2 separate regions of the Homo sapiens genome follow, and region 2 is linked to region 1. Evidence: fine-mapped expression QTL. A gene starts in region 1. The other region holds a variant in brackets. All regions are shown on one strand. Distances are from middle to middle. Region 1 holds the start of AQP1 (aquaporin 1 (Colton blood group)). Region 2 overlaps MINDY4 (MINDY lysine 48 deubiquitinase 4).

Region 1 (5,364 bases):
GGACCCTGGTCTAAGGGGTGCCACCCCTGCCCTCAGGAGCCAGGTCTGCAGGAGAAACAGTTTGCCCTCCAAAACTTCAAGGTGAGGGGATCCTAGCCCTGCAGAGAGAGCTCTGGTTGGACGCCCCTGAAACTGACCAGAGAGCTCCTCATGTGGGTCAGTGTCCCTGCCAGGGCATGGGGCCAGGGGCCAGGGGCCAGGGGCATGAGGGAGCCTCCCAGAGACTGGAATGCTGAGCCAGGGCTCCTCAGAGGAAAGGATGTAGAGGAGGGCCCAGGAAGTAGCCCAGTGGGGCCAGTTTCCTCTCCTGGACAGCTAAGAAAGTACTTATGACCTTCGGCCACCTGGGCTGTCTGAGCAGGCAGGGCCTGCTGGCCACCACCGTCCTGTACAGGCACTTAGGGGAATGAATCTTCCCCACCTGCAGCCCCAGCAAACACACACCAGGCTGGTCCCTGGCAATTCACCCCAAGAGCCAGGCCACAGCTGGGCAGAGGGGTGGCCAGTAACAGCTGGTGTCATTCTCTGCAGGATAGCCCCTGGACAAGAGGCATAAGACCCACTCATCCTTGCCCTGCCCCAGGCACACTTAGAAAAGTCCTCTCACCGGGCCTCAGTTTCCCACCTATAAATGGGAAGATGCCAACACGCCCGAGTGGGACTGTGGTGGGGCAGGCAGGAGGTGGGAGGAGAGCCCAGATCATCCCAGGCCTTCCCTAGGGGACGCAGGGGGACCCTCCCTTCTGGGCCTGGTTCTTCCAGCACGTTCCATGCAGCAGGCAAGAGGGCCAGGCCCAGGGGTTCCTGACAGCTTGCTGGCCCTGGAGTCCAGATTCTTGTTTGTTGGCTGGCGCTAGGCCTCTGGATTGGAGATGCCCGGGGCACAGGCGGCCCACGGGGATCTGCAGCAGGGCCTCGGCCCCTCCCTCTGCAGGGGCTCGTCTGGTCCCTCCCGCTCTCTGCCTCTCCTCATTTATCTCTCCCTTTCTGCTTCTTGGCTCTGGGTCCAGTCCTATCTCCCCTGTTTCAGTTTGTCTTTTCCTAGCCCTTTGCGCTCTCTCTGTCTCTCTCAGCCCTGCTTGTCTCACTGTCTCTGGCTGGGGGATCTGTCTCTTTCACTTCCACTTTTGCTCTATTTCCCTGCTACTGTCTTTCCTTTCTCCTTGTCTGTCTCTTCTCCTCCCCTCAGCCAGCATCTGTCTGTCTCTGCCTTTCTCTCCTGCTCCCTCCCTCCCTCCTCTCCAGCACCTTCCAATGCCAGGTGGGGCTGCCATTCCTTCCACCTTCCCAGTGACCCGCCAGTGTGACTGCCTTGAGAGGAAAGTCCTAAACTGTCCCTATCTTCACCAGCCTGCCCTCAAATCATTGGTTCAAATCGCTGTCGAGAAGTTTGGGAGCTCCCAGGGCGGGGGCTTTCTAACAGCTCTGCCTAGCTCGGGCCTGCCCTCAACCGCAGCATGCAGGGCAGCCACAGACAACCTCTCTGCAACTTCTGATGCCTCCGTGCCCCCATCCACAGAGCCCTGGCTCTGGGGGACTGGGGACTCTGGGACATCCCTAACATGGCATGCAGTGGCGGTGCGGGAGGACTTGACTGCCCCTCTGGAGCCCTGGGCCCGGGGACTCCAGGCCAGTGCCTCTCTGGGTCGGGATGGGGATGTCAGGCCAGCAGGATCATGGTACCTGCCTCCAGGGAGGGCAACGTCCACCCACTGAGTCCAGCCCGCCCACCCCACCCACTCCGGAGCACCTGGCTCTGCCCTCAGGAACTCCCTGAGCTTTGCACACAGGGCCGAGACACCTGGATTTCTCTGGTTCCCTGAGTGGGGCCAGCTTGGAAGAATTTCCCAAAGCCTATTAGAGCAACGGCTGCCTCCTGCCTGCCTCCTTGGGCTGGGCAGGGCTGAGGGCGGAGGGAGAGAGAGAGAGAGGGAGGGGGAGAGGAGGAAGGAAAAAGTTGGCAGGCCGACAGCACAGCCGTGTCTGCATCCATCCAGAGGAGGTCTGTGTGGTGTGGGGCGGGCCAGGAGCGAAGAGAGGCCTTCCTCCCTTTGTGCTCCCCCCGCCCCCCGGCCCTATAAATAGGCCCAGCCCAGGCTGTGGCTCAGCTCTCAGAGGGAATTGAGCACCCGGCAGCGGTCTCAGGCCAAGCCCCCTGCCAGCATGGCCAGCGAGTTCAAGAAGAAGCTCTTCTGGAGGGCAGTGGTGGCCGAGTTCCTGGCCACGACCCTCTTTGTCTTCATCAGCATCGGTTCTGCCCTGGGCTTCAAATACCCGGTGGGGAACAACCAGACGGCGGTCCAGGACAACGTGAAGGTGTCGCTGGCCTTCGGGCTGAGCATCGCCACGCTGGCGCAGAGTGTGGGCCACATCAGCGGCGCCCACCTCAACCCGGCTGTCACACTGGGGCTGCTGCTCAGCTGCCAGATCAGCATCTTCCGTGCCCTCATGTACATCATCGCCCAGTGCGTGGGGGCCATCGTCGCCACCGCCATCCTCTCAGGCATCACCTCCTCCCTGACTGGGAACTCGCTTGGCCGCAATGACGTGAGTGGGGTGTCCCTGGGCTTGGGGGGGTTCTAGAATGATGCTGAAAGGCACTGGTTCCATCCTCTGCCCATTGTGCAGATGGGGACACTGAGGAACGGAGAGGACAAGAGGTTGCTGGAGGTCACGTAGAGAGCTGGGGGGAAGAGCTGGGGCTGGAACTCAGCTATGCATGCCTCCCAAAGCCTGTTTTCTGCCAGGCACTGTGGGAAGCTGAGATCCAGAGAATAATGGTCTTGCCAATGTCCCCTGCAGGGCATCTATTATGGGGAATAAGCTTGGCCAGCAGTTCCTCGCCCCTTGGCTGTAGCTTTTTGGCCCTTCTCAGTCCTGCCTGTGCCGCCAGCTCCCTCCTCCTGCAGCCCTGCACCCTGGGGAAACTTTGCCCGCTGTCCCCAGCCACCCTGAACCAAATGCCCAGCCTGTCTGCAGCTGGCTCTGCAAGTGTGTGAGCAGGACTCCCTCAGGGAGCCCCCCATATTCACACTAGTTTCCAAATAAACCACCTCTAGGAATCAAGAGAAAGGCCCTCTTCCACTCTTTTGCCCCTGAGATTAGACAAAGATAAGGGAGTGAAAACACTCTCTGGGGCTGTTTGAAGGCAGTTTTCCTGGATTACAGTATGGGCTGGGGGGCAAGCGCTGGGCTCCATGGTCTCTAGGCACTGAGAGGTGTGGCGTGTGTGTGCATGTGCGTGTGCGTGTGTGTGTGTGAAGGTGTGTATGTGTGCATGTGTTTGCCAGCATGAGTCTCTGTGCTTGTGTCAACTGTGTGCATGTTTGTGCTGCTGTGTAAGGGTGTGTGGGGGTGAGTTTGCAACACGTGCCCATGGCTCCTGGCTTGAATGGGGTCTGGACTGGGGTCACTAATGACAAGCAGATGCTGGTGACTGGGTGGCAGCTGTGGAAAAGAATGTCTCCTGGGCTGCTTAGCATGGCAAATTGGCCCTGGTGGCAGCTGCCTGCTGTCCCAGACACGGCCTTTCCCAGCTCCTCAGACAAGTGCAAACTCAGGCCGGGCTTGGGCCACAGCAGGGGAGGATTTGGCCTGAGAGACTGGGGAAGGCTTGGAGGATGTCTCTGAGGGCCCAAGGGACAGGTGAGCAGGCCTGGGGGTGCCCTTACAGGGAGGGAGAGAAGCCAAGGAGCAGAGAGGAGGACTCGTCTAGAGAGATGAGGCTGGCGGGGCTGTGGGCAGGGCATGTGGGTGTGGGGACGGTGTGGGCCATCTCTGAGGGCGCCTCAGAGATGGCAGATAGTGATTACAGCAGCTGTCCTCTCGCTTCCCAGCCAAAGTTCAGATCCTGCGGCTGGCAGCCCAGGAGAGGCTAGGTGAAGGTCTGGTGCAGAGGGCAGCTGGCTCAGCCTGGCCATGGGGGGCTTAGCACTTCTGTGTCACGGTGACACCTCACCCAACCTCCTCTGCAGCCAACCTCTGCTAGGCCCAAGATTGAAGATTAGCTCCGTGGGCTGGAGTTTAGACTTTAGCCAGTTTAGACGTGGCCGCGGGGGATGTACGGGACAGAGCTCAGGCAGGCCACATCAAGCTCTGCCCCCCCAGGCCTCAGTTGCCAGTGGGTGCAGAGCTTGTGGCCTCAGGGAGTTCTGCTGGGTAGGGTCAAGCTCACACTGAAGCTTGGCTGGGTATGATGGGCTGGGGGAGCGTCCCTGTAGGGGAGTGGATGTGATTTCCAGGCTTTCTGGCCCCGTCTCTTCCCTCCCATCTCACAGGGCGGAGCCTCTGCACCTGCTGGCGAAGGCTTCACCCTCTAGTATGCGCATCCGAGGCAGAGGCGGGAGGGTGGGCCCCTTCTGTGCCATCTGGAACAGAGGCCACACCAGCCTCCCGTGCCCCATTCCCTCCCTGGCCTTCATTTTTTATAGTCACCCCAATACTTGGGCTGGGCGTGTTGCAAATGGGAGAGAAAGAGGAGCAGCCTAGTGTGGGGTCCGGCCCTGGGCTGAGAGGCAGACACCTGGGTTCAAGACGTGTCCACTGCTAACTTGTTGAGCTTCTTTGGAGCTGCGGACCCTGACCCTCGAGAGGGAACTCAGGTCTTGTGACCTCACAGCCACACCCAGACAGCCAGCTCACTTCATTGCTTTGAGCTTATCACCCATCCCACGAAAGCTGGCTAAGAGCAGCCCAGCAGGGGCAGTGCTGAACATAAGGGCGCTTAGCATGATGGTGGGGGCTCAGGCGCTGTCCTGTCCCAACAGTGGAAGGGTGGGGTTCAGGACCTCAACTCTGGGCCTAGAAATAGAGAAGGTACCCCTCTAAGGGCTCCCGTCAGACACTGGCCCTGGAACTGGAGGGGCCTCAGGGGTGGCCTGGATGCCTCAAGAGGAGCAGGGAACAGTCTGGGCAGCAGGTGACACACTCTCTTTCATGACCTGGGGTAGGCTCCTGCAGCCTCTCTGGCCCTGAGCCCCAGCCCAGTCAAAACCTGGGTGGGGCAAGTGGTTGGCATGGAGATTTCCAAGGAAAACAGAGAAAGATGTGGCAGGAAGTGGTTGGGGTGAGTCAGGGGGTGTCCCTTCGGGACATGCTGGGGACAACTTTCTCCTGACTGACTCAGGGCTCAGGATATGCCCTAGAGAGACCGTGGGCCTCCGTCCAGCCTGCAAGGTCCCGGCTAGTTCTAAGAGCCAAATACCAATTTTGGCTAAGGGTGAGAGGCTCTGAGGCTGGGGTGGACACTCTCACCTGTCCCTGTCCTAGCTCAGCCACTAACACCATGTGGCATCACACAACAGACTGGCCTGTGTGGCCCTAGTTCCTGTCTATGAGATAGGGACATAGCAGGGTGTGGCTGGG
Region 2 (5,364 bases), 29 kb before region 1:
GCTTTGGGACTCTCTCCCTGCCGTGAATGAATGCTGGGTCCCTGTGTCAGGGTTCCCTGTTCCTGGCGATGCCCTCACCAGAAAAGCCTCTTTGAAGCATGGAATGGAAGCCAAGTTTACGTGGGGTTTAGGCACGTCCAGCCACGTCCTGTAAGACATCTAATTCCCCCACACTTCACTAAGGAATGAGCTCTGCAGTCCACTTCAATGGCACACAGGGCTGGGGTGAGGCTTCGGTGTGGGGGGAGGGGACACTTGAACCGTAAGAAAGGATGAGTGCGTTGTAAAGACTGTCCCCCTACCTTCTGGAGGAGGCAGCTTTAAATGTGCAGGAATTTCACTGGGGACCTGGTTCAGGACCTTCAGAGCACAGCCCCTCTGTCAGAGACATCCCAGATCAAGATGGGAGCTGCTCACCCACTCTCCTGTAAAGGGTTCTGGAAAAAGTATGCCCTTCTCCCCACTGGAAAAATAATTCCCATTCTTTCTTTAATCCACAGGCTGTAGCTGTAAATACCTGAGCATGCAAACATCTCCCTGGGGCTGGTAGGGATTAGGCCAGAATCAGCCTGGCCCGTGGCACGTACATAGCTGGATAAACCAGGGCCCAGGGTCAGGAGAGGCGCTGGCCAAGAAGTGTCAGGGGCTGGGGGAAAGTGCATGGAGGCCAGGCATTCAGGGGCTTCACAGGGGGCCCTTGTCACTTCTCTTCCCATTGTAGTCAAGATGCTAGCAACGTGCTGAGGGCCCTGGTGCTTATTCCTCTGTGTCTTCTTCCACAAACACTTCCACCATGTGAAATTCCCCTGCTTGGAATGCTCCTTATCCAAGTGTTGCTGCAACCTCAGTGCCCTGCTGCACCCTGAATTTCTCTGTCCCTCCATTCCTGGCACCCCCACAGACTTCTCACTCAGACCTTTCCCTCCTGGCTCCCCAGGGCTCCATTCCTAGTTGTCTTTACCGTGCAGTTCTAGTTCAAGTCCTGCTTCATCCATGAGGAATTTCATTCACCCGACATTTACTTACCCCGGGCTCCTGGAACTTAAGGGTATGATCTGTCGAGCATGAGGCAGAGGTGCTGCGGCTGAGGTGGGTGGGCACCTAGTGATGTGCTCCCTGGGAACTGGAAGGAGGAAACTATTTCTGCTCCAACAAGGGATTTGGGAGATGCAGGCTGTCCAACGGTAAGCAAGCTCTAGGCTAGTGGACAAGCTGAATTTGTTTGAGGGGTGTGGGAAGAATTGGTTAGGAGGTCACTGCCGTGGTGCAGGTTGGAGGCTGAGTAGATCTCAGGAGGAAAGGCTGGCAGTGGGGGAGCTCTTGGATGCAGAATGAGCAGTACTGGGAACCATTAGATGTGGGGGATGAGGGGGCGAGTGATACCGGGTCTCAGGTCTGTATGGCAGAGGCCCTGCGAGCAGCAGCAGGTGGGGTGGCAGGGCAGGGATGGCCCTGGGAAACAGCCCAGTGGCCTGAGCAGCGTGAGGGGCTCCCAGCATCAGACACAAACGTGATCTTCAGCAGGGCCTCTCTGAGGTCAGCCCTGCCTTGAGTCAGACAGAAAAATGCCCGGACCCCTTTCCCTGGGGACGGCATTTCACATCAGGCCTCTCCCTCATCCAGGTTGGCTGCTTCCTGAAGACCCCGAGGTTCCCCATCTGGGTGGTTTGCAGTGAGAGCCACTTCAGCATCCTCTTTAGCCTGCAGCCGGGGCTCCTGCGTGACTGGAGGACTGAGAGGCTCTTTGACTTGTACTACTACGATGGCCTGGCCAACCAGCAGGAGCAGATCCGGCTGACCATTGGTGCGGGCCCTCACCCCCCCACCCACCCAACCCTGTCCCCAAGGAGCCTCCAGGCTGGTCACAGAAACCAGCCTTCCTATCCACCACCAACCCCCATGACAGAGAGCAGTGCAGACTCCAGCATCCAGACTGGGGGATCAGAGAGCCAATGCCAGCAGGGCCTCCCTGCAGGAGGCGGCCAGAGCTGGGCCTTGAGCAGTGAGTGGCATTAAGGGCGTTGGGTAAAGCCTACACCACATGGTAAAGAGCCCTGAATACTATGCTGACAAGTTTGGATGTATTCTTCAGGCAGTGGCGAGCCATGGAAGGTTTTGGAATCAGGGTGGTGAGATCAGAAGTGTTTTTAGAAAGAGTATTGTGGTAGCTAAAGTGGGACACGGGTGGGGACCAGTGAGTTGTGCAGGTGAGAATGGATGTCAGGGATGAGGGTGGGTCCAGTTGAGATGGAGAGGAGGGGACAGGGACTAGAAGGGGGCGGGTCTCGGGAGTGGTCAGCGCTGACCTCAGGGTGAGTGCAGGGCCCTGGGTGACATGTGTGTGCCTCTCTCCTCCTTCCCAGACACCACCCAAACCATCTCTGAGGACACAGACAACGACCTTGTCCCACCCCTCGAGCTCTGCATCAGAACCAAGTGAGTCAAGCCCCTCTCTGGCTTTGAGCCTCACCCTGAATAGCTTTGAGGAGCCATGGTTGGGGGTGGTCAGGCCTGCAGGAAGGCAGATAGGTTCCTGGACCACCCTGATTCAAAGAGGTGTGGTGATTGGAAAGACACAGGTTTCTCCACTCGTGGTCACTGGGGCCCAGGTTCAGGAGTGTGTGGTCTGCAGTGGTGATGCGTCTTTAGACAGCTTCTGAGACTGCCTTCATGGTTGGGGGTGGGGGCTAAATGGGCACCTCTTGAAGCCCCTCCTCCCTCAAGGCAGCAGCAGCCAGATGTGGCAAGTACCGTTAGGCCCGAAGGAGGCAGGACAGGGGTGCTTACCTGAGGGTGGGGGAGGCTTGAGCAGGATAGGAAGCTGGGAGGCCTGGCCCAGCCTGGGGGTGGCAGGAGGTGCTGCCTGGAGCGACACCCTCTGCTTGCGGAGGAGCCGGAGGAGCAGCTCCGCCACTCTGAACACTGAGCAGTGTGCCTCTGGCCTCAGAGGCAGGTGGGAGCTTCAACTCCTCTGACCCAGCCCCTCTGTATTTAAGGGGAGGCTGAGGCTCAGGCCAGGGGAGGGGAATGTTCAGTAACTGGGGTGAGTTGGGGCTCACCTCCTTGCTGT[G/A]TTCTCTGAGTGGGCCCCTGGGCTGGTGGTGCGGTAGCTGTCAGAAGTGCTCCCCTTGCCCCGGCAGGCCCTTCACAAAGCCCTTGGGGCATGACCCAGAGGCCTCAGCGTGCATGAGAGGAGCAGCCCGGGAGGGAGAGGCCTGGATCCTGGTCCCTTCTGGGGGAGCAGTGGAACTGGTAACCTTTATGAGTGTGGGCTCTGGAGAGAAGTCGCCTGGGTTCCAGCCCTGGTGTTGCTGCTTCTTGGTGTGAGCCACTGGACCTCACCTTCCTGCACCCCACTTTGTCATCTGTAAAATGGGGGTGATGCATACCTTTCTCACTGGACCTTGTGAAGAGTGTCTGGGACGTTACTAAGTGCTCCATGGTGTTTGTGCTCACGATGATGACCTCAGCCACTCCTGATTTGGTGTGATCTCAGAGAATCTCCATTTCTCTGCCTGTGAAATGGTTGGGGTTGTGACGGGGGATGCAAAATGGTGAGGCCCTGCAATGCTTACTGCCTGAGATCCAGGGGGCACAGCAAGCTTAGGGTTGATGCCCACCACAGGAAAGCGAGCCCTTGAGAGGAGCTGCAGAGAAAGAGAAATGTTCACATGGTGGAAACACCAGGAAGGGGAAATGGGAGGAGCGCCGAGACATCCTCGACATGCTTTGTCCGTCCGTCCGTCCATCCGTTCGTCCATCCACCTGCCCGCCCCCTGAGCCAGGGATGAAGCATTCTTGCAGGGTCATGTGCTGGTGCTTCTTTCGTCGGGAGGATTAAGGGCACCTGCAGGTCGCTTTCCTTTCATGTACAAAGGGCCACTCATTCAAAATGATGAGAGAAAGGCAGCAGTGGGGACAGGAGGTGACACTAGCCTTGGCATCTGTACAGGACAGCGTGGGAGGCCACAGGGCATCCTTCCTGCAGGTGGGCCTGTTGAGCAGGGCTCCAACACCCTGGACACAGCCGCAGCTTGCCTCTGGACTCCTGGGACCCTCTCTGAAGGCCTCCGTCTGACTCTGTGTCTCTCTACCCCTCCCAGGGGGTGGCCCACCACCTGAAACCTCTCCACTGCCTCTTCTGGAGTAACTCCTTTTTCTCCAGAAATTATTCCACTGCATGACTCACCAAGCACCTCCCAGCGTGGGCCCAGGATTGGACTTCTTGGGCTCAGCTCTAATTGACAATTGTTTGAGATCGACCTGGGGCCTTGGTCTGCATGGAGCTTAGTCCATGCAGAGTGAGAGTCTTAGTGTGTGGACACGGGCCTGAACCTCCTCTTCCTCTTCTATTGGCTGCCTTCATCTCCCAAAACTTCCTTCCCCTGCCCCTTGTTCACTTGCAAGCAGGTGACAGTGAGGTTATGTGGGAAGCAGAGAGGCTGCATGATTTGGGCCAGGGCCCTGCCCTTCTCTGCCCTCACATCTGCTTAGTGTTGTGTGAGCTTGGACAAGGCTGAGCCCCACCATCTCCTTGAGCAGTCATGCATGGAAAATAATTCTATTTGTGTAGCACACAGGGGCTAAGAGGAGCCCATATGCATTTGTGGCTCATGCTTGGGGAAAGTTTGCTCCAGAGCAGTGGCCTTCAAGCTTCAGGGGCATCAGAGTCACCTGGAGAATATGTTAAAACACAGATCACCACCTATAATCCCAGCACTTTGGAAGGCCGAGACGGGCAGATCACCTGAGGTCGGGAGTTTGAGACCAGCCTAACCAACATGGAGACACCCCATCTCTATTAAAAATTAGCCGGGCATGGTGGCACACGCCTATAATCTCAGCTACTTGGGAGGCTGAGGCAGGAGAATCGCTTGAACCTGGGAGGCGAAGATTGCAGTGAGCTGAGATCATGCCATTGCACGCCAGCCTGGGCAACAAGAGGGAAACTCCGTCTCAAAAAAACAAACAAACAAAAAACCCAAAACCAAAAAACACAAAGCGCCGTGCCCCACACCAAGGGTTTCTGAGCTTTTTATTCAGTAGGTCCAGGGTAGGGCCCAATAATTTGCATTTTTAAGGAGTCCTCCAGTGATGCTGATGCTGCTGGTCCCAGGACCACACTTTGAGAACCAGGTAAGGGCAGTGCCCACCCCCCCCCCAACCCTGCTGCCTTGTGAGAGTTGGGTATCAAGTGAGGCATTGATTCTCTGGCCCGCCATAGGCACTGGGCCAGGGGAACCTTCTTCCTGGCTCCATTAGCTATCCCCTCATCCCCAGGTCTGTGTTCCATGTCTGCGAGAACTTTGCTGACACCAGCTGCCTGCCTGTTCCACTTCCCCCATCAATCCCCCATCATGGTGGGTC

What was found. PIP is the estimated chance that this variant, and not a neighbour inherited with it, causes the effect. A credible set is the group of variants that fine-mapping cannot tell apart.
Region 2: its variant is the best candidate, but not a certain one, in a credible set for the expression of AQP1 in lung (TOPMed, PIP 0.79).

Annotation. Positions count from the first base shown.
Region 1 is chr7:30,909,747-30,915,110 of GRCh38, forward strand. It overlaps AQP1 (aquaporin 1 (Colton blood group)), which reads left to right and starts at 2,107. Exons shown (of 4, transcript NM_198098.4): 1 at 2,107-2,547. The coding sequence starts at 2,164.
Region 2 is chr7:30,880,558-30,885,921 of GRCh38, forward strand. It overlaps MINDY4 (MINDY lysine 48 deubiquitinase 4), which reads left to right. Exons shown (of 18, transcript NM_032222.3): 16 at 1,624-1,804; 17 at 2,364-2,436. It overlaps INMT-MINDY4 (INMT-MINDY4 readthrough (NMD candidate)), which reads left to right. Exons shown (of 20, transcript NR_037598.1): 18 at 1,624-1,804; 19 at 2,364-2,436. Among named protein-coding and RNA genes, the nearest start is that of AQP1, 29 kb to the right of the region's middle. RefSeq lists an enhancer at 3,487-4,388. The variant G/A (reference allele first, on the strand shown) is at 3,071.